3 linked regions of the Homo sapiens genome follow. The protein of the gene in region 1 purifies or fractionates together with the protein of each later gene. This does not show direct contact. Each region holds a gene or a part of one and is shown on either strand. Other genes may lie near its edges.

What was found.
Region 2: the proteins of PTPRN (region 1) and MFSD8 purify together in Homo sapiens (affinity purification with mass spectrometry; 2 studies listed by BioGRID and IntAct, with this or other methods). This does not show direct contact.
Region 3: the proteins of PTPRN (region 1) and TMEM214 purify together in Homo sapiens (affinity purification with mass spectrometry; 3 studies listed by BioGRID and IntAct, with this or other methods). This does not show direct contact.

Annotation. Positions count from the first base shown.
Region 1 is NC_000002.12:219,292,401-219,299,423, reverse strand, and holds part of PTPRN (receptor-type tyrosine-protein phosphatase-like N isoform 1 precursor), read left to right. Parts: intron 1-39; coding exon 40-119; intron 120-312; coding exon 313-377; intron 378-1,320; coding exon 1,321-1,539; intron 1,540-1,990; coding exon 1,991-2,191; intron 2,192-2,291; coding exon 2,292-2,439; intron 2,440-2,601; coding exon 2,602-2,675; intron 2,676-2,907; coding exon 2,908-2,985; intron 2,986-3,078; coding exon 3,079-3,198; intron 3,199-4,282; coding exon 4,283-4,449; intron 4,450-5,223; exon of another isoform or gene 5,224-5,313; intron 5,314-7,023. UniProt on the Homo sapiens protein: Plays a role in vesicle-mediated secretory processes. Required for normal accumulation of secretory vesicles in hippocampus, pituitary and pancreatic islets.
Region 2 is NC_000004.12:127,962,152-127,970,156, forward strand, and holds the start of MFSD8 (major facilitator superfamily domain-containing protein 8), read right to left. Parts: upstream 3,023-8,005; 5' UTR 2,983-3,022; coding exon 2,921-2,982; intron 1-2,920. UniProt on the Homo sapiens protein: Outward-rectifying chloride channel involved in endolysosomal chloride homeostasis, membrane fusion and function. Conducts chloride currents up to hundreds of picoamperes.
Region 3 is NC_000002.12:27,035,964-27,042,216, reverse strand, and holds the end of TMEM214 (transmembrane protein 214), read right to left. Parts: intron 6,248-6,253; coding exon 6,165-6,247; intron 5,731-6,164; coding exon 5,625-5,730; intron 5,513-5,624; coding exon 5,431-5,512; intron 5,141-5,430; coding exon 5,039-5,140; intron 4,657-5,038; coding exon 4,515-4,656; intron 4,428-4,514; coding exon of another isoform or gene 4,416-4,427; exon of another isoform or gene 4,403-4,415; coding exon of another isoform or gene 4,325-4,402; intron 4,186-4,324; coding exon of another isoform or gene 4,072-4,185; coding exon 3,980-4,071; intron 3,734-3,979; coding exon 3,685-3,733; intron 3,516-3,684; coding exon 3,402-3,515; intron 3,171-3,401; coding exon 3,053-3,170; intron 2,477-3,052; coding exon 2,380-2,476; intron 2,188-2,379; coding exon 2,019-2,187; intron 1,873-2,018; coding exon 1,721-1,872; intron 1,507-1,720; coding exon 1,380-1,506; 3' UTR 523-1,379; downstream 1-522. UniProt on the Homo sapiens protein: Critical mediator, in cooperation with CASP4, of endoplasmic reticulum-stress induced apoptosis. Required or the activation of CASP4 following endoplasmic reticulum stress.

The DNA of each region.
Region 1 (7,023 bases):
TGGGGTGGAGAAGGCAGTAACATAGCTCCTATCTGGCAGTGTGGTGGGACCAGCCCTCACCTTCCGCATCCGGCACAATGAGCAGAACCTGTCTTTGGCTGATGTGACCCAACAAGCAGGTAAATATCTCTGCGACCTCAATCCCAGGCTTGGCCCCAGCCCCACTCCTAAGAGGATATATCCAGGCCTGTTGCTGATGCCCCCTTGAAATGTTCCCAGCCCACATGGGCCCTGCCTGCTGCTTGGCAGAGCAAGACAGAGGATGGAGACCACATGGGGCTGGAGCAAGCCTGACCTTTGTCCTCCCTGCAGGGCTGGTGAAGTCTGAACTGGAAGCACAGACAGGGCTCCAAATCTTGCAGACAGGAGTGGGACAGGTATGCGCTAACTGGAGAATCAGTCCAAGTCCCCAGAGGGCTGATGTTGTCCGCAAGAGCTGGAGGCAAACCAGAGGGGAGAACTGGAGCCGAAACGTGTCCGTAGGCACGGCTGGCTGGAGGCGGCCTTCGCCCAAGCAGCCCCTCCCCGCAGTTCTCTTTCTCACCAGCAGATGGCGTAGGTGTCCCCTCCCTGCAGGACCAGCCCTCTGTAGTAAAAAGGCCTGAGAACTAGTTGAGCCGCCCTTAGTCTGCTGGAGCGCAGTCTCCAAATTCCAAGGGAACACCTTGCACAGAAAGGACATTATACTCAAAATATGTTTTGTTTGTTTGTCTGAGACAGAGTTTCACTCTTGCTGTCCAGGCTGGAGTGCAGTGGCTCGATCTCGGCTCACTGCAACCTCCACCTGCCAGGTTCAAGCGATTCTCCTGCCTCAGCCTCCCAAGTAGCTGGGATTACAGGTGCCTGCCACCACACCCGGCTAAATTTTTTTTTGTATTTTTAGTAGAGATGGGGTTTCACCATGTTGGCCAGGCTGGTCTCGAACTCCCGATCTCAGGTGATCCGCCAACCTTTGGCCCCCCAAAGTGCTGAGATTACAGGTGTGAGCCACCACGCCCGGCCTATACTCAAAATACCTTTGTCTTCTGCATCCAACACTGATGCCTCACGTTCTACAATTCAATTCCTAGGGTTCTCTGTCCGTTTTTAAATGCAAACACTCCTGGTGGGGGCCTCTGGCACTGCACTGTGGTTGAGTTGATCCGATGGGGATTGAGAAGGAGAATCTGAGCCCATCTGGCTGTACCACCATACCCCTAATCTCCCAGCTTTGCCCCAGGAGATGTCCTAACAGGGGGTGTGGCATGGGACCGGGGTGAGGAGCAGCTCTGAAACCTCCCTATGCCACTGCCTCCCTTGATTCTAGCCTTGTTCCCACAGAGGGAGGAGGCAGCTGCAGTCCTTCCCCAAACTGCGCACAGCACCTCACCCATGCGCTCAGTGCTGCTCACTCTGGTGGCCCTGGCAGGTGTGGCTGGGCTGCTGGTGGCTCTGGCTGTGGCTCTGTGTGTGCGGCAGCATGCGCGGCAGCAAGACAAGGAGCGCCTGGCAGCCCTGGGGCCTGAGGGGGCCCATGGTGACACTACCTTTGAGTACCAGGTGTGCAGCCCCAGAAGCTGATTGAGCAAAGGAAATGCAAGGGGCCTGGGAGTCTGGGTCTTGCGTGGACTAAGGGTCGGAACTGAATGGGGAGTGAGCCCTCATCCCTGGGAAGGTCCAGTGGAGGCTGGAGAAGCCCCAGTGGGAGGGAGTATGGTAGGGGCCTTTATGAACGCATGGGAATTGGGAGCATACAGTGCCTAAGGTTCTTCTTGGTGCTGTGCTTCTGGGGCTCTGGGATTCCACTCTGTCATGTCTGAGGTTGACATAAGCACCACCCAAGCAAAACAGCCCTGGAAAGGATCAGGGCCAGGCAGAAGACCATACCCCAGAGGAGCTGAGTTCCACTGAAAATCAGTCAAGGGCAAGCCTAGGAGCCCAGAGTTGAACCCAGGGCCCTGTTGAAAAGTTTCAGGGGACTCTTGGACCTCACCTGATTCTTCCTCCACAGGACCTGTGCCGCCAGCACATGGCCACGAAGTCCTTGTTCAACCGGGCAGAGGGTCCACCGGAGCCTTCACGGGTGAGCAGTGTGTCCTCCCAGTTCAGCGACGCAGCCCAGGCCAGCCCCAGCTCCCACAGCAGCACCCCGTCCTGGTGCGAGGAGCCGGCCCAAGCCAACATGGACATCTCCACGGGACACATGATTCTGGTCAGGACAGGGCCTGGGCCCAGAGTGGGTGAAGGAATGGGATGGTGAGAGAGGCCAGGCTGGCTGTGTGGGCCAGAGCCAGACCGTGGTGCCCCCACAGGCATACATGGAGGATCACCTGCGGAACCGGGACCGCCTTGCCAAGGAGTGGCAGGCCCTCTGTGCCTACCAAGCAGAGCCAAACACCTGTGCCACCGCGCAGGGGGAGGGCAACATCAAAAAGAACCGGCATCCTGACTTCCTGCCCTGTGAGTGAACCCTGCTGGCCCACCTGGCCCAGCCCTCTCTCTGCTGCGAGGTCTGGAGGGCTTGGGGTAAGGGGTTGGGCTTCTGGCTCAGGCTGAGTGGCAGAGGTCCCGCGATGCCAATGACCAGAGGGCCATCTGGGGTGGGGTGTCGGGTCTGTGCAGATGACCATGCCCGCATAAAACTGAAGGTGGAGAGCAGCCCTTCTCGGAGCGATTACATCAACGCCAGCCCCATTGTGAGTGGCCCTGACTCCAGCCCCCACCTCTGCCCCATCATTATCCTGGCCCTATGCACTCCATTTCCCCGTGGTCACCTGCCACCCCACCAACCCCCTGGAGTGGTGGGGCCTGATATCCTAGCAAGGGGGAACTGCCAGCCTTCTCAGACCCTGACCCACTTGCTCTGACCACGCCTGTCCATAGTGGCATTTCCCACACTGGCTCATGGTGTATCTTCCCTGCCTCCAGATTGAGCATGACCCTCGGATGCCAGCCTACATAGCCACGCAGGGCCCGCTGTCCCATACCATCGCAGACTTCTGGCAGGTGGGCTCTTAAAGGGAGGGCTTCGCTGGGGTCCTTGTGGCCACGAGGTCCCAGGGAGGTTAGAGTGGAGCTCAACTGGGTCTCTGTCCCTAGATGGTGTGGGAGAGCGGCTGCACCGTCATCGTCATGCTGACCCCGCTGGTGGAGGATGGTGTCAAGCAGTGTGACCGCTACTGGCCAGATGAGGGTGCCTCCCTCTACCACGTATATGAGGTCAGCAGGGCCCCACAGCAAGGGGACAATGGATGTGGGAAGAGTAGATGATGGCCTTTTCGTAACGTTTTCTTCACCAAATGAGCACTCAACAGTCTTTTTAAAAAGGCTTTTATTGGCCCTGCTCATGATTCATACATATATGAATATATATAAACACATATATGCATACCCATATATTCACATATATACATGTGTGTGTCCTGTTTACAGAACATACATGTGTGTGTGTGTGTGTGTGTGTGTGTGTCCTGTCTAGAGTCAAAAAGCGTTCATAGAGACTTATGATAAAGGCACAGAGATCAAACTATAAAACCACCAAAACCGAGGTAAGAAGCTAACAGCTAAGTGTATATTAGACAGGGAAGATAAGGATACCCAAAGACTGAGATTAAGACCTACGTTAATTGAACCTAATTTAGCTCTGAGTTTCCTGGTGGCCAAAGCAAAGAAAGACATACCACCCGTTACATACGTTACTAATGTAAAAGAGAAACAAACTTTTTCATTAGGAGAGAGACTAGGTGGAGGGGTGGAGAAGGAGGGGGAACTGGGCAGAGGCCAAGCAGGGGAAAGAGAAATATTTCAGACAAATGGGAGAACGTGAGTCCCCACTAAGACAAAAAAACCTTAAGAACACAGCAGAAGCTTCTCATCACCAGATGAGCCTGAATAGTAATTTTTTCCCCACCAAATAAGCACATGACGGTTTTTTTAAAAAGCCTTTCATTGGTCCTGCTGGTGGTTAACGAAAAAAATCCAGTAAGAATACTACAGAATTTCATCCAAGTTTATGGCACGTGTAGCACCGATACTCTGGTAGACCCTGCGAGGAAGAGGGAGGAGAAACTCCGACCTCGAGAGGCTCACAATAGCTGTGTCTGGGTGGAAAAGCTACTAGTGGTCCTGAGCAGTAGATAAGTGACAGGCAGCCAGGGTTCCTGGGACCGCTGGAACTTAGAATTTGAACCGGCCTGGGAGGCCGGGCGGTGGTTGGAGAGACCGAGAAGGTCGCGAGGAGAGCGCGCGCAACGCGGGGACTGGGGCAGCCCGCGGCGCTCAGGCCTGGGCCCCTGCCGGGCAGGTGAACCTGGTGTCGGAGCACATCTGGTGCGAGGACTTTCTGGTGCGGAGCTTCTACCTGAAGAACGTGCAGACCCAGGAGACGCGCACGCTCACGCAGTTCCACTTCCTCAGCTGGCCGGCAGAGGGCACACCGGCCTCCACGCGGCCCCTGCTGGACTTCCGCAGGTGAGCGCGGGCGCCCCCGCCTGGAGGGACCGCATGGGCGGGGGCGGAGCCGGGGTCCGCCCGCCGCTCGGCCTGGAGCCCCGGGTCGGGCCTGGAGCCTCGGCCTCTGACTTCTGGCCGCCCGCTCCAGACCCCACGCTCCCACCCCTAAAAGCAGGCCTGAGGCTCCGGCTGTGCCCTTCCCCGAGCCTCCACCACCCGCGTGGGCCAGCTCCGCGCCGGCCGCTGCTGCTCTGCTCCCTCCCTCTCACGCTCCCGGGACTGGCTCCTTCTCCTCCACCTGCTTCCTCCAGAGGGCCCTCTGCTTTCTGTCTCCCCTCCCTCTCCAGGACCCCTGCTTCCTTTCTCCTTCCAGTTCCCTCCTGCCCCGCTGTCTCCAGGCCCTGCACTGCGCTGCCTTGCTGCCCCCTCCGTCTCTCACTCCCGCCTGCCCGTCTCCCCTCCTTCATCCCTCTCCGTCCCTCCTTCATCCCTCTCCGTCTCTTCGCCTCTTTTTTCTGTGTCTTTCATTCTTTTTCCTTTCCTCTTTCTTCCTCTTCTCTCTCCCCATCTCTCTCTCACTCTGTCTCTGCCTCACCCTTTCCCTCTCTCTCCATTTCTCCCTCTCCGCGCTTCTCTTCCTTTCTCTCTGCCCTCTCCCCTGTTTTTCTCCACCTCCTTCCCCTGTCTGCCAGTTTCTCTCTGCTGCTCTGTCCGTCTCTCCCTCTCCCTCCCGCTGCCTGTCTTTCCTCTCTCTGTCCTTCCCTCTCCCTTCTTCCCTCTTTCTCTCTCTCCCTCACAGCTGCCAGTGTCATTTTTGTGATCTGCAGCTAGTATTCTCACTCCAGTTGCATAGTCACAAAAGTGATCATTGGCAGGTGTGGCTGCTGCATGGACAGACAGGACATGTGGCCCGGGGACCACCCCGAGCTGGGAGCAAGGGGTACAGGGAAGAGGCAAAGACTGTCGAAAGGAGTGTGGGAGGATCTCTGGATTCTGGGGGGCTCAGTGGAGCAGGTGGGGACTAGACAGGGGCTACCTGAGGGACTTACCCTTTTCCAACACTGACACCAAGACAGGTCAGCCCTCCAGCGTCCCCTGCTTTTCCTAGCCCCAGACAGGTACTTGGGAAGCCCACTACCAAGGGCAGGGGCCCACCCACACTGCGCCCTTCTCCTGGTTCTCTGTCCCTTGCCAAGCTGGCCTGATGTCTCTAGGTACTGGACAGAGGAGCAGAGCTGGGGGTGGGGACATGGGTATAGTTTCTGAACCTCAGGACAGCAGTTTCTAACTGGGGTCCCTGAGGCCTGAGACACAGGCGTCTTGAAAGCAGTGCCAGGGTATCAGAGCTATTTCCTTTTTTCCATATTTAAAAAATCCTGGTAGAACTAGTGCATGGATCTGTTTTAAAGCTGCACAGATAAGCTAAAAGATTGCTTTAGGCTGGAATTATGTAAACTCAGTTGGCATTAGACATCCAGAACAAATAAACTGTTGCTTAAGAAATGCAGTTCGGGGCCGGGCGCGGTGGTTCACACCTGTAATCCCAGCACTTTGGGAGGCCGAGGTGGGTGGATCACTTGAGATCAGGAGTTCAAGACCAGACTGGCCAACATGGTCAAACCCTGTTCTGCCAAAAATACAAAAATTAGCCAGGCAGGGTGGCGAGCGCCTGTACTCCCAGCTACTCGGGAGGCTGAGGCAGGAGAATCTCTTAAACCTGGGAGGCAGCAGTTGCAGTGAGACGAGACCGTGCCACTGTACTGCCACTTGGGCAACAGAGCCAGACTCCCTCTCAAAATAAATAAATAAATAAATAAATAAATAAATGCAGTTTGGTCAAGCCCCCCTAGAAGGAAAACAAATTAATAAAAGAGACCCTAAGAAAGTGACCCTGAGTAAGTTCCTTGGCTTCCCTCCATTCCGCTACCTGTGAGATGGGGATGATTACACATACTTTAGAGCAGAGGTTCCCAACCTTTTTGGCACAAGGGACCGGTTTTGTGGAAGACAATTTTTCCACGGCTGGGAGAGGGGGTGGTTTGAGGATGAAACTGTTCCCCCTCAGATCATCAGGCATTAGATTCTCATAAGGAGCTCACAACCTAGATCCCTCACATGTGCAGGTCACGATAGGGTTCGCACTTCTGTGAGAATCTATTGCAATGGCTGATCTAACAGGAGGCGGAGCTCAGGTGGTAATGTTCGCTTGCCTCCTGCTATGCGGCTCGGTTCCCAACAGGCCATAGACTGACACTGGTCCATGGCCCAGGGATTGGGGACCCCTGCTTTAGAGGGCTGTTGCAAGATTTGATAAAGTATGTAAAATCTAGTGTAAGTGCCTGATACATAGCAAGGGCTCCGTTAATTCTAGATGCTGCCTATTATCATTATTAAATGAGCAAAAACAACTATTGTGATTACTCTTCTACCCTAGCCCTCTGACGTAACAGCCAATGAGCTAGAAAACCATGTGGACTCCTATGAAGCCATTCTAAGTCACCTGGTCCTATAGCTGAAGGACTGTGAAGTTCCAAACTTCAATCTGACAACCCCTAAGAAGGTCTTCCCTGGTTCTGGCTTGCAGGGATATCA
Region 2 (8,005 bases), on another chromosome or scaffold:
ACTTAAAAAGTATAGCAACGGGCCTCAGAGCCTATTGAGACATTTGGGACTGTTTGCTTCTACACCAGCACTTTGGGAGGCTGAGGTGGGTGGATCACTTGAGGTCAGGAGTTCCAGATCAGCCTGGCCACCTGGTGAAACCCTGTCTTTACCAAAAATACAAAAATTAGCCGTGTCTGGTGGCCCACGTCTGTTAATCCCAGCTACTCCAGAAGCTGAGGCAGGAGAATCGCTTGAACCTGGGAGGCAGAGGTGGCAGTGAGCCAAAATCGCACCACTGCACTCCAGACTAGCCCACAGAGCAAGACCCCGTCTCAAAAAAAAGTATAGCAGTGTAGAATAAATTGGTATAGAAGCAACAGTCCCAAATGTCTCAATAGGCTCTGAGGACATCACTCTATTAAAATTCATATCAGCATCGATATTCATTTTAATGATCTCAAGATAAAATCAAGTAAAGATAAAACTGCACTCCAGGCTCACCACTGCACTCCAGACTAGGCCACAGAGCAAGACCCCGTCTCAAAAAAAAAGTATAGCAGTGTAAAATAAATTGGTATAGAAGCAAACAGTCCCAAATGTCTCAATAGGCTCTCAGGACATCACTCTACTAAAATTCATATCAGCATCTAAACTCATTTTAATGATCTCAAGATAAAATCAAGTAAAGATAAAACTGCATTGCATAAACTCTGTTTAGTAAATCGAGGACCAGAGAAATACATTTGCCAAAGGGTTTTGAGTTAGAGTGCTCACAAAAGGTTGGTGCTTAAGGGGAACAAATGAGTAAAAATTATTATGGTCATAGACAGCTGAAGTTTAACTGAATTTATTAATTTACCTGAGGTAATTATTATGTATATTTCAAATAAAATAGTAATTCCGTTTTCCTAAAGGTAAAAATACATTAGGTATACATTCCCGAGTCACTGCCCATAAACTAGGATCAGAACAACCAGAATTATAAGGATCAAAATACTGACGTTATTCCTTTAATGCCTTAAAATTAGTCTTTCTTTGTACATTTGGCATAGGACAAAGGCGAGCTCATTTTGGACAGATTTGTTAAACTATCAAGAGGTTGTCAGGCAATTAGGCAGCAGGTCATTACTAAGACCGATACCTTCAAGTATCTATTAAAACCATCATTTTGAAACTGTGAAATCTGGAAAGTGATCAGCTACAAAGGGCCAAATATGGAATGCAGAAGATACAGAATGTGGTGGCTTTGTGTCCGGGATTGGTGGGTTCTTGGTCTCACTGACTTCAAGAATGAAGCTGCGGACCCTCGCGGTGAGTGTTAACAGCTCTTAAGGTGGCACGTCTGGAGTTTGTTCCTTCTGATGCTCAGATGTGTTCAGAGTTTCTTCCTTCTGGTGGGTTCGTGGTCTCGCTGGCTCAAGAGCGAAGCTGCAGACCTTCGTGGTGAGTGTTACAACTCTTAAGGCGGCGCGTCTGGAGTTGTTCGTTCCTCCCCGTGGTCTCGCTGGCTTCAGGAGTGAAACTGCAGACCTTCGCGGTGAGTGTTACGGCTCATAAAAGCCGTATGGTCCCAAAGAGTGAGCAGTAGCAAGATTTATCGCAAAGAGCGAAAAAACAAAGCTTCCACACTGTGGAAAGGGACCTCAGCGGGTTGCCACTACTGGTGGGCAGCCTGCTTTTATTCTCTTATCTGGCCCCACCCACATCCTGCTGATTGGTAGAGCCGAGTAGTCTGTTTTGACAGGGCGCTGATTGGTGCGTTTACAATCCCTGAGCTAGACACAAAGGTTCTCCACGTCCCCACTAGATTAACTAGATACAGAGTGTTGACAGAAAGGTTCTCCAAGGCCCCACCAGAGTAGCTAGATACAGAGTGTCGACTGGTGCATTCACAAACCCTGAGCTAGACACAGGGTGCTGATTGGTGTGTTTACAAACCTTGAGCTAGATACAGAGTGCCGATTGGTGTAGTTACAATCCCTGAGCTAGACATAAACGTTCTCCACGTCTCCACCAGACTCAGGAGCCCAGCTGGCTTCGCCCAGTGGATCCCGCACCGGGGCTGCAGGTGGAGCTGCCTGCCAGTCCCGCGCCGTGCACCCGCACTCCTCAGCCCTTGGGTGGTCGATGGGACTAGGCACCGTGGAGTAGGGAGCGGCGCTCATCGGGGAGGCTCGGGCCGCACAGGAGCCCACGGAGTGGGTGGGAGGCTCAGGCATGGCGGGCTGCAGGTCCCGAGCCCTGCCCCGCGGGAAGGCAGCTAAGGCCCGGCGAGAAATCGAGCGCAGCGCCAGTGGGCTGGCACTGCTGGGGGACCCAGCACACCCTCCGCAGCCGCTGGCCCGGGTGCTAAGCCCCTCATTGCCCGGGGCCGGCAGGGCCGGCCTGCTGCTCCCAGTGCGGGGCCCGCCAAGCCCACGCCCACTCGGAACTCCAGCTGGCCCGCAAGCGCGGCGCGCAGCCCCGGTTCCCGCTCACGCCTCTCCCACCACACCTCCCTGCAAGCTGAGGGAGCCGGCTCCCACCTTGGCCAGCCCAGAAAGGGGCTCCCACAGTGCAGCGGTGGGCTGAAGGGCTCCTCAAGTGCCGCCAAAGTGGGAGCCCAGGCAGAGGAGGCCTGGAGAGCGAGCAAGGGCTGTGAGGACTGCCAGCACGCTGTCACCTCTCAGCTTGGGTGCTGCAACAGGCAAAGCAGCAGCCTGGGTTTCTCCAGCCCCGTCACTCGAACCCACGGGCTCATCACCGCACGGTGCGGCCAGACGCCCTTTCTCCTACGTTGGGAGCGAATCTCCTCGGCTCACACAACCCAGCCACCGGCTCCCACCGCGCTGGAACCCCTCTGGCAGCGAGGGTTTGTCCCAGTGCGGGTGACGCCCGGAAAGGAACCAGTCCCAACAGCGCAGGAGACTGAGGGGTCCCTCCACCAGGATCCGCTCACCTGCTTCCAGGTGTGTCGCCTAAGAGCGGCTCCTGTTCACTTTCGTTCCGCAGGCCGGCCATAGTTACACTCCCTACAAGGCGTCTTGCGCCCAACTCTCGCGACACCTGCTTTCTCCCATCCCGGGTGGCGTGAAGCTGGCAAAACAAGCCTGTAAGTGCGCGTGCGCACCTGACGGTCAGACGTAGGCGGAACGCCCCGAGGTCATAGGCGGGGTCACGCGGAAGGCCGGGCAGCGCAGGGCGAAAGGAGGCTGTGTCCTCAGCCTCCTCCCTCGGCACGCGCCTCCCATCCTGACGGGGACTGAGAGCCCAGGAGAGCTCGGGGCGTGTCCAAACTGCCGCGCCGCCCTGCTCCGGGTTTGTCTTCCTCCCTCCGTTTCTCCTTCCGCTGTATCTAGCATTTCGGTTCCTGGAAAGGTTACCGGAGCTGCGATTGGGGCTGGGACCAAAGTTGAGTCCTGGAAAGGGAGCCTGGAGAGCGGCGGTGCTGGGAGGCCCGGCCAGCTCGATCGCAGGCTTCCACCTGGCGGCCAGTAAGTAGCCGGTCCGGTTAAGTAGTAGGTGCGCTAAGAGCTCCCCGCGCCTCTTAGCGCGCCGTGTACGCGCCTGGAGGCAGGGACCGGGGACGCGGAGCTGGGCGGGAGACTCGCGGGTCAGGGACGCGGGGTGAGGCTGGGGGTGAGAGACAAGGCTGGAGTCCGTGGCGCGCTTCGGAGGGCTGAGATAATGGGGGCGAGCGCGCGGGCAGTCCCTTCCCCCCGTGAAAGGTAGAGGTGGCTTCCAGCTCTCTTCTCTAGCTCGGCTAAATGCAAAGGCGCCTTACCTGGAGGGCTTGTCAGAGCCAGGACTGAAGGTGGGATCTGCTGCTTGTAACCTGCAGGTCCCCGGATGCGCACCCCAACGGCGCCTGCGCCTACGGGGGCCTCAGCCTTGCAAAATGTCACTCAGCAGAGCCTGCTGCTGAAACGTGGGAGTTGAAAAAGGTACAGCACCTGCCTAGCAATGACCAGCTCCTTTCGTCACAAGGAAGATGACATTTTTAGAAAACATGTCATGGGTTTTCACTAGATCTCCATGTTTATTTCTTGGTGGTTATGTATTAACATCTTATCTCTACTATTAGGCTTGTAGGCTAGCTGGCGTCAGTAGTCATTCTGTGTCTCATAAATTACCGTTTTATTAGCGCCAGATACATTGTCATGTAATTTCATTTGATCACAAGTATCCTATGAGATAGGCGAAGCAGACACATTGCTAGTTTACTGAAAATTAAGATCCAGACAAGTTAACCCAGAGTCACTCTGTGTGGAAGTGGCAAAGTTGGAAACCAAACTTAATTTTTTTAAATTAATATTTATGAGCATTTACCCTATGCTAGGTCCTATACTAGTTACACAGTCATGTATGGTATATGCCATCACTTCTGATCTTTGTGTCATTTGTGACCTTGTGTGTATCAGCCAGGCGCAGTTCACTGGTGAACACCTAAACTTGAAACGTGCGGTCTGGGTGCGATGGTTCATGCCTGTAATCCCAGCACCTTGGGAGGCCAAGGCGGGCGGATCACGAGGTCAGGAGATCGAGACCATCCTGGCTAACACGGTGAAACCCCGTCTCTACTAAAAATACAAAAAAAAAAAAAAAAAAAAAAAAAAAAAAAAAAAAGCCGGGCGTGGTGGCGGGCGCCTATAGTCCCAGCTACTCGGGAGGCTGAGGCAGGAGAATCCCTTGAACCCGGGAGGCGGAGGCTGCAGTGAGCCGAGATCACGCCACTGCACTCCAGCCTGGGCAACAGAGTGAGATTCTGTCTCAAAAAAAAAAAAAAAACCAAAAACCTTGAAACGTGCTATTCAGAAATATCTTCTAAATCAAGACCTGATATTTTGTACTTGGATTCAGTCTTGCAGATTCATTTGTAACAGCTCACAAAAACAAGTCAGATTTGTATTATTGGTTCCAAAAAGACACATAGGTAGAAAAGTTAGTATTTTCTTGCCATAATGTCGCTTTATTATATTGTCTTTTTTAATTCCTGGGGGCTAGCAATGTATGGCACATATATAGTGGACAAGGGGATTTTTAACCAGTATAGCAGTAAGCAGAATGGCTCCTAGATAAATATATGTTGGATGAATGCTCATTGAATTACTTCATCTCATCCTTACAACAATCCTCTGAGGGGGGAATTGTCTCATGTGTACAAGGAAATGGAAGGCAGGGAGATTAAGTAACTTGCCTAGGATCATACTACTAACAAGCAACAGAGCTAGAATTCAAGAAATGCAGGACTCCTGATCCTAAGCCTGTGCTCTTTACCACCAGGCTTCTTATGGGAAAAAATGGCAAAGCGGCAAGAAGAATCTTTCCTTATATCTCATAAAAATATATAGTAGATATTCAGTTTTTATCTAAGTGAAATAATTGGCTATCATGTATCAGGGCAGATATTACTTTCTGTTTATAGGTTAAGGTGGCTTACTCAAGGTCACACAGCTGGTAGAGGAATCCCAGCCCTCTGACACTGCTCTTTTCCATTGGTGCCTCCAAGTGATGACTTCAGACCACAAAAGCATATGGAATGAGTACATATACAGCTGGTGAAATCTAAGTAAGCTTAGTGTATTGTACCAGTAGGAAAAAAAAAAAAAGAAAATGTCTCTTAGGAACACACACATAGCATCCAAAGTAAACATTTAAACATATATATATATGTAATTTTTTTTTATAAAGCCCATGGAAAAGAGGAGCTAAATTTGAAGAGATTAGATTATTTCCCGAATGTTTCACACAAGAATATGAGACTCCATTTGGTGCATTTCCTTAGGTGACTGCCCAGGATATTTACCCACACCCCTTTCAAACAAACAGCCGGGCGCGGTGGCTCACGCTTGTAATCCCAGCACTTTGGGAGGCCGAGGCGGGCGGATCACGAGGTCAGGAGGTCGAGACCACGGTGAAACCCCGTCTCTACTAAAAATACAAAAAAGTAGCCGGGCGTGGTGACGGGCGCCTGTAGTCCCAGCTACTCGGAGAGGCTGAGGCAGGAGAATGGGGTGAACCCGGGAGGCGGAGCTTGTAGTGAGCCGAGATTGCGCCACTGCACTACAGCCTGGGCGACAGAGCGAGACTCCGTCTCAAAAAATAAACAAACAAACATCCTATTTTCTTACTCTTGTTCAGTGTAAGAGTAAGGAATTATATTTGTTGAATTATATTTGTGAAGCTAGGGAAGTAGATTTTAACAGTGGATATCTGAGGTATCTAAACCCTTTCTTAGCTACTTAAACTTGTATAGACATTATTTAGAAGTGAAATTACAAGATAAAATTTAAAGTCTTCTTTTTTAGGTAAGGGAATAAGTTCTTGTACATGGTGATATTTTTTAAATTTTCATTTATGCCTTTGAGATATGTATCACCAATGTAAGGATAAAAGTCCAGAAAAAATTAGTATTGCATTGTTAAATGCTTAGGTACCCAAATGACAGGAAATAAAAGCACTAGATAGCATAATAAATGATGAGTGTCACTTTAGCAATAGAACTCATTTCTAGGAAAGACTTTTTAGTTCTTGGCACTGTACTAGAACTTCTATTTTTGTTTCCCTTTGCTTTTCCCTTTCACATTGATAACTGTGTCATTTTAGCTTGATATATACTTCAAAAATAGGTTCTATTTCTGCAGAAGCTCATTGTTGTCTGTCCAGCCTGAAGTGGGGACTTTTAAGTATCTGGCATGACTCCAGATGGTGCCTTATTTTGGTGATTTGGAGTTACGTTCACCCTGGGCTTGGATTTTTATCTGTTCATGGTGGCACTAGATACCCTGGACCCAGCCAACCCTGTCTAGAAAGACTTACGTGTTTAGAGAGTTCCACAAAAACTGTCTTTTATGTTGTTCTTGGAGCTGAAATGGGATTTAAGAAGATTTGTATGACCCCAAACCCCAGAACCAAATTTATACTAACCTATATGTGCGTTTGATTTACTTTCTTTTCCTCATTTATTAGTTGTTTATTAGTAGGTAAATATAGTAAGGAATATGCTGTGTCTAAGTTTGGAGTGCTGACTTTTGTGGCCTGTTATGCAGGGAATTAAAGTGATTTGGGAAGGTTTTCTTTTTTTCTTTTTTCTTTTTTTTTTTTTTGAGACGGACTTTTGCTCTCGTTGCCCAGGCTGGAGTGCAATGGTGCAATATCAGCTCACTGCAACCTCCACCTCCTAGGATCAAGGGATTCACCTGCCTCAACCTCCCAAGTAGCTGGGATTACAGGTGCCCACCATCACACCTGGCTAATTTTGTATTTTTAATAGAGACGGGGTTTCTCCATGGGTCAGGCTGGTCTCCAACTCCCAAACTCAGGTGATCCGCCTGCCTCAGCCTCCCAAAGGGCTGCGATTACAGGCATGAGCTACTGGGAAGGTTTTCTAGTTTGGGTTGAAAACTAGAAATAAGTAAATAATTTAGGCAAACAATAAATATAGTACTTTACAAAATATTTGAAAAGTTCATTGTTCTTAGGTCCTTTCTTGCTTCCTTTGCAACTTTCTAATTCTATATTTTTGCTTTATCTTGGTTTTATCTACCAATCTAGAAGAATATCAAAGTTTAGGAAAATGGAGCATCTCATGAGCAGTATATTACTTTTCTTCTTACTGTAAAATATAGGTGTTGGAATTTTTTTTTTTTTTTGGAGACAGGATTTTGCTCTGTTGCCGAGGCTGGAGTGCAGTGGTGCAACGATGTGCACTGTTGCCTCAACTTCCCAGGCTTACACAATCTTCCCTCCACAGCCTACTGAGTAGCTGGGACTACAGGTGTGCACCACCACACCTGGCTAGATTTCAAAATTTTTTTGTAGAGACAGGGTCTCATTGTGTTGCCAGGGCTTGTCTTGCGCTCCTGGGCCCGAGCAGTCCTCCCGTCTTGGCCTCCCAAAGTGCTAGGATTACAATCATGAGCCACTGCGCCTGGCCAGGATTTTTTTTTTTTAAGAGACGAGGTCTCACTATGTTGACCAGGCTGGTTTCAGATTCCTGAGCTCAAGCAATCCTCCCTCCTCAGCGTCCCAAAGTGCTGGGATT
Region 3 (6,253 bases), about 190 Mb from region 1:
TTTGAGAACTGCTAGAGCGTATCTCTAGTACTGCTGACTTGAAACATTTAAGGAAACAAAATTGAGAACTAAGAAACCAGCAGAGTTATCTAACTCCTTATAGTCTCAAGTCAAAAATAAAAAGGGGCTTCGGTGATAAACCTTGGACTCATGTGTCCCTTGGAGTTCTAAATCTTTCACTCACTGCTCTATAAAATGAAGGTCCTGGCAAGGAAAGGACACCTCCTGGTCACTGGCCAAGAATTCCCCTAGGAGACGGCCCCCTGCTTTTCTAAGCGTAAAACTATCAAGGCAAATCTGGGACGTGAATCACAGTGACAAGTCAGACACTATAATTAGGGTAGCAAGAGAAGTGTCTAGAACACCCACCAGGTCAAACTTTAGAACCATGTGTGTGGGCTTCCCCCACCAGGAGCTTAATTACAGCCACGGCTACAGTCTTCAGGAGGGCAAGGGCCCAGGATTTTGTTATTCTGAACCATAACTAGGGGAATTTCTATATGAGGATGCAGACAAGAATGCTAGAAATCAAATCTGTGTCCTTTATTCCACCTGGTAGGGCATACCCAAGAACCATATACTGAGTCCTGTCTCAGGTTGATGGAGGGTTCCCTGGGCCCAAGGCACACAACTGCCTGTGCTCTGCTCTACAGATGATAGGAGGGATGGACAGTGGAGAGAAGCTGAGCCTTGTGACCAAGACCCCCAGCATGATGGGGAATGGAAAGTTGGAAGAAGTAGGACTACAAGGGAGGGGACAGGGAGGGGCTTAGAGGCATTTGGGGCAGGCTGGGCATTTTGAAGTGAGAGGCATTTCCATCCAGCTCCCCATGTCCACTGACAGCCACACCCAGGCTTCAGGTGGAGGTGAGGCTGCTGTTTCCCAATGCGGTGCTATATTCTTCTGGAAGCCCCTTTCCTTCTGCTGTGGCTAGAGCTGTGACCAAGAATGGGAACAGGAGGCTGCTAAAGTCTGGAGAAGCAGGAATCATTTGTCAGAAGAACACAGAAGCCACCTGCTGGGAGTTCTATCTTTTTAGAGATGAGCTGTTTGGGGTTTAGAAATGAGATGGAAGGAAGTGGAAGGCAGAGGGCAAGGGCGGAGTTGTGAGAGGCTACCAGCACAAGGATGGAGGCTGGGGGCCATGTGCAGTAGGGCCAGAAAAGTGTTCAGTGGAATTGTGGGTAGGAGGCTGAGATGCTGCTGGGCCCTGTCCCCACCAAAGATGGAAGAACTGAGGTGGAGGCAACTGGCCACTTGCCTAGGAGAGAACTCAGGCACCAAGTTAAAAAGACTCCCATGAAGAACTGCCACCTTCTACCCGCTGCAGTCTTGGATGGTCTACCCATGCAGAAATCAGTGGCCAGGAAGGCAGGGCCTACTGCTGGGATATCAGGGCAAGTGCCCAGTCCAAGAAAGCCACTGTAATGTCCTGTAGGCAAAGCCAGGTCCAGTGGACAGCCTCACTGAGCTGTGTCTTCATGCAGTCCCAGGTCACCTCACCTCTGGAAGGAAAGTGGAACATTTTTGAGTATGCACGTGAGTAGCTGTGTCAACTTTCGGGGATGAAAGCTTAGACCCACAACCCTCATCCCAGGGTGGCCAGGAATGGGAGCGAGGGGCAGGACAGTGTGGGAGACTGGATAGAGATGGCTTGTCCCTGGGGCCCGGGAATGGGGCTGCTGGGGATCCTGCCGGAGCCCTGGGCAAAGGTCTCACCTGCATGCCTCATGGCAGTGCTCCTGGGCCCAGGCCAGGGCCTCAAGCAAGAGGTGCCACAGTGGCAGCAGCACATTCTGGTGGAAAAGCAGGGGCAGCTCTCTCAGATAGCGGAGTAGCTGATTCACGGAATCGGGGAGCTGGATCTGTAGCTGGACCATGGAGAATGGATGGGGTCAGAGTATCCAGGGAACTGCATCCTGGCCCTAAAGACTCAGGCCACACAGTGCTGCTCCTTTCCCAGAATTCTGCTCCTGGGAAAACCAGCCCCTTATTTGACTCCCTGTCTCTGACTTACCCTCTGAGAGAGACTGGTGAGACTGTCACCAAACCACGCAAGGTGAGAGGCACAGTGGGCAGAAAGGAAGCTGACTGTGGCATTGGTGTGAGCCCAGGCCAGCTGCAAGCTGGGCCGCACCACGGTGAGCAGGTGGGAGCCCCAGAGCGGCAGTGTCTCCCCCAGCCAGCTGTGGAAGATGGAAGTGGGGGAAGAGGGCTCTGAGTCTCCTCAGGCCCACTTAGCTCCCAAGAAACAGCTGGGGAAAGGGAGGCCGTGGGAAAGGAGAATCACAAGCGCTTCCCACTGACTGTCGCCTCCTCCCTGACACCCAGGCCTTCTCTCTTCTGCCTCTCCTCTCCCCTCCCTGGGAGGAGCTCACCTGTAGCCTTGCAGACTGTAGGAGTAGAGCTTGGCACACGCTTGTTGGCTAGCAGGTAAGAAGCCAGATGATCGAAGCAACCGGCCAGTAAGGGAGGCTAAGTAAAGGGGGCCTCTGGTGAGCTGGGAGGTGAGAGGGGCAGGGACTGGGGAGACAGACACTACAGGGCCCAGAGCAGGCACAGCGAGGCGCTGGGCAGAGCTTTGTGTTCTCACAGGGCCACAAAGCCAGCTCCAGGCTGCTGTGGAGGGAGGCATGCAGAGCTGCCCTTCTCCTGCTGGGCCAGGTGTGCAGGAATGCAGCTGCCGGTTGGAGCCTAGGCTCAGGCTTCAGGAAGCCTCAGGTTGAGGGTCTGCCCTTCTACTTACTAGCTATGACCTAAAGCTAATTGCTACATCTTTCTGAGACCATTTCCTCAGGAGTTAAAAGGAGGTAACACCTACTAAAATGATACTATGAATATGCAAGCACTTCTATACTGCGAAGTCCTAGTCCAATCTGAAATGGTAGTGTCATATCTGTGGACAAAAAAATCTGTCTGTAAAGTGTTTACTCTGCAGGATTGAGAACTCGTCAGGACAAAGATGTGTGCTGCTGGGGGCGGGGTGGTGGTGCTACGTGTAGCTCTGTGCCCCGCCCACACCATCCTCCTCGCTTGCCCATTGCTGCTTACCCTGGAAGGAGCTGTGTGACCGGAGGTCATGGCACAGGAAGCCTACAGCGAAGACCAGCAGCAACAGGAGGAGCCGCGTCCAGGGCAGCCGAGGACCCTGAACCTGCTGCAACAGGCCCTGGTGGGAGGGGAGCAGGAGACAGTTGTCAGAAGCGAGGGGCTGGTCTTTGCCTCTGAGGGCAGACCTCAAGCCAGGCCTTCCCGAAAGAGCGTCAAGCCTTCACATTATCCTGGAGGCAGCGGGGGGCTCCAGACAGGTGGGGCAGGAATGTGATACAGGCCCAACCCAGGTGTGCTGAGACAGAGATGTAAGATAGCGTGTGGGCTGGAGAGGACCGGGTGCCAGCACCTTGCAGGCCATGTCACAGGTGACGACATCCTGGTTGTTACTGCTACCCTTCCTCAGCAGCTCCTGGTTGGTAAGCTTGAGGGACTGAATGGTTTCTTGCAAAGACTTCTGTACCTATGGACAAGAAAGGTCTGGCCTGTGAGGGAATCCAGAGCTTCCATCCTGCTTCATTTTCCATGCCAACAGGGTCCCTTCTCAGGGAAGGGACAGTGGCTGAGGAGCCCCCACTCAGAACCTAGAATCCAGACAGGGCTCAACCTGCCACGTCCTCCCAGCTCCTCACCTTCTTGGGAATCTGCTCCCAGGAGCTGAGCAAGTGCTCCAGCAGAAGGCTGTGGGGAAAGCACAACCCCCTAGTCAGGTGGCTCGCGCAGCCTCACCCATCCTCCTGTCCTCCATTAGCCCTGGCTCCTTCAGGCTGAAAGACCCTCCACCTACCACCCACAGAGCAGCAGCTTCCTAGAGGCTGCTCCAGCAATGTTCCCACTCAGCCTGAAAGGTGTCAGGCCATGGGACAGTGACCCAGGCTCCCCTTCTGCTTCTAGCACAGGGACAGGCTGGCCTCCCACCCCACCTGCCTGGACTGTGACAGGTGCTTAGGGTACAGCTGCCTCCAGACGCTGGCACTGAGGGGGTCCACCGTCAGGCACTCAGTCAGGCTGCTCAGGAGCTGCACAGCACGACAGAGGGAGAGGCTGCTGGGGGCATGGGGCTGGCAGAGGCGGGGAGTGCTAAGAGGTGATCCCCTTCCCGTAAGCAAGGCCATCCAGGCCGCACATCCACCCTAAGGGGTGGAGAAACAGTGTCAAGACTCCAGAAAGCTCTCTGAGAGGCTGTAAAGCAGGAGGCTGGGGCTCCTGAGCTAGAGCTTTGAGCTCAAAGATCACTATCTGCAAGAGACGGGCATCAGAAACCACCCAGACCTGAATGTGCTGTCTCTTGGGATCCATCTTCTGAGGGTGAAGCTCGAGTGAGCGGGGCAGGCAGCTGTCAACAGGGAGCTAAGGAAAAGCCTCAGAATGGGCTCTGTGAAGGCAAGGCCTTTGTCAGCAGATAGGGACCGCTACAGCTGACCCCTGGGGAAGGAGAAAAAGCCTCCCACCATATCCTCACCTCTTTCTTCATCTCAGGGGGACAGCTAGGGGTGGCTCTGGACAGGAAAGAAGGGAAGTAGGTATGCAGGGTGGAATCCGGCTTTGCTCCAAATGCCAGCACTTTCAGTCGGGGGTAGAGCTGACACAGCTGCTCCTGCAGGCTGGGTGGGGTGGGGAGGAAAGACAGGCATAAGCTATAAGTGGAGCTGTATGATATGAACCTTTTGCTTGCTTCAGAGCCCATGCCTGCCTGTGGGGAATAGCCACTGAGGACCTTGCAATGGCTCTGAATCTTTTTACTCAGAGACTCCTTGGAAATCTGTTGAAAGCCATGGACCCTATCCCTAAGAAAATGCCCATATGCCAATCACACTCAAGGGTCCATATAATTTCAAGGGGTCACTGTTCCCTTGAAACCTACTCTTGAACTTCCAGGTTGCAAATCTCAGATCTAGGATGGCTGGGGAAGGAGAGACGGGAATATGTAGTGTGGTTCTGGTGCTGTGGTCCCTTCTCAGCAGGTGTGCCCCAGAGCAGTCCTACCTGGGTGTCAGGGAGTTGTTCGGCATATAGGCAAAGTCCAGAAGTGGGAAGAAGTCCTTGGGGCCAATCATGCCGAAGCCCTTGGTAAGGTTGGGATGCATCCTGTGGGGATGAAGAAACAGGCTCGCTGGACACCACCACCCATGCCAGCTGTTTTGGCCATGACCCCAGCTAAGCCAACATCTAGGAAAAAGGGTATAAACTCTACCCCATCTGCCAGCCCTTAATAGCTCCCTCTTCTTCCTTCCTCACCATCACATTCTAAGGTGGTGGGAGAAGCTGGTCCTGATTTTCCTCATATCCATGGAGACCAAGATCATAGCCTCCCATTTTGCTATAACAGCCACTTGGGACACCCTGAGCCTTCCCCTTGCTGCCCTCCCATTACTCACAGGAGCAGCCGATCCAGGTATGTGATGGCAAAGGGAGACAGAGACTTGATGCCCAGCACAGGCAGCATGATCCCCAGCCACACTGCAGGGGTAAAAGTCACGAGGGAGGCCTCAGGCTTGCACCTACTGGGGGCATCAAAGAGGAGTTTTCCAGCTCCGAGACCCTCCCTCTTTCTTCCCTATTTCCCTGTTACCTTTCAGTCCCTCGGTGAGGTTGGCAAAACCTGCTTGACCCAGGGCCCACATGATGGTGAGACACTTTGCTGGTCGGCTCTGGTGGGACCTCAGCAGTTCCAGGAACTGAGGAGACCGGTGGGGAAGGCAGATTGGGATAGGACAAAACACCAGGAGCACCCCCCAAAGCCAGGAGGGAAGGGAGATGTCAACTGGAAGAGGGAGGACAGGCCGAGCAAGAGTGGAGCACTATGGCCACGTGGTGCAGGTTCTGTTTGTGGGCTTCGCCCATACTCTGCCATTTACTGGATGACTGAGCCTAGGAAAGTTACTGAACTCCTCTGTGGCTCAATCTTTTCATCTATAAAAATGGGAAATAATAGCAGTACCTTGCTCCTATGTTTCCAGAGCACACACACAGGATAGGTGCTAATAGTGTTACCCATTATTACTAGGCTTACAGGTCTTCCACTATCCCAAACCTGAGTCCAACAACATAGATTCTGCCCAGCCTCCCCAGTCCTAGCTTCCTAGCATCCCCACCATCACTGAGAGCTCACCTTGCCTAGGTTTGCCGTGGCAATCTTGGGCTTGTCTTGCAGGATGGCCTGGATACAGATGCGGTAACCATGTAGTGACTCCCCTGGAG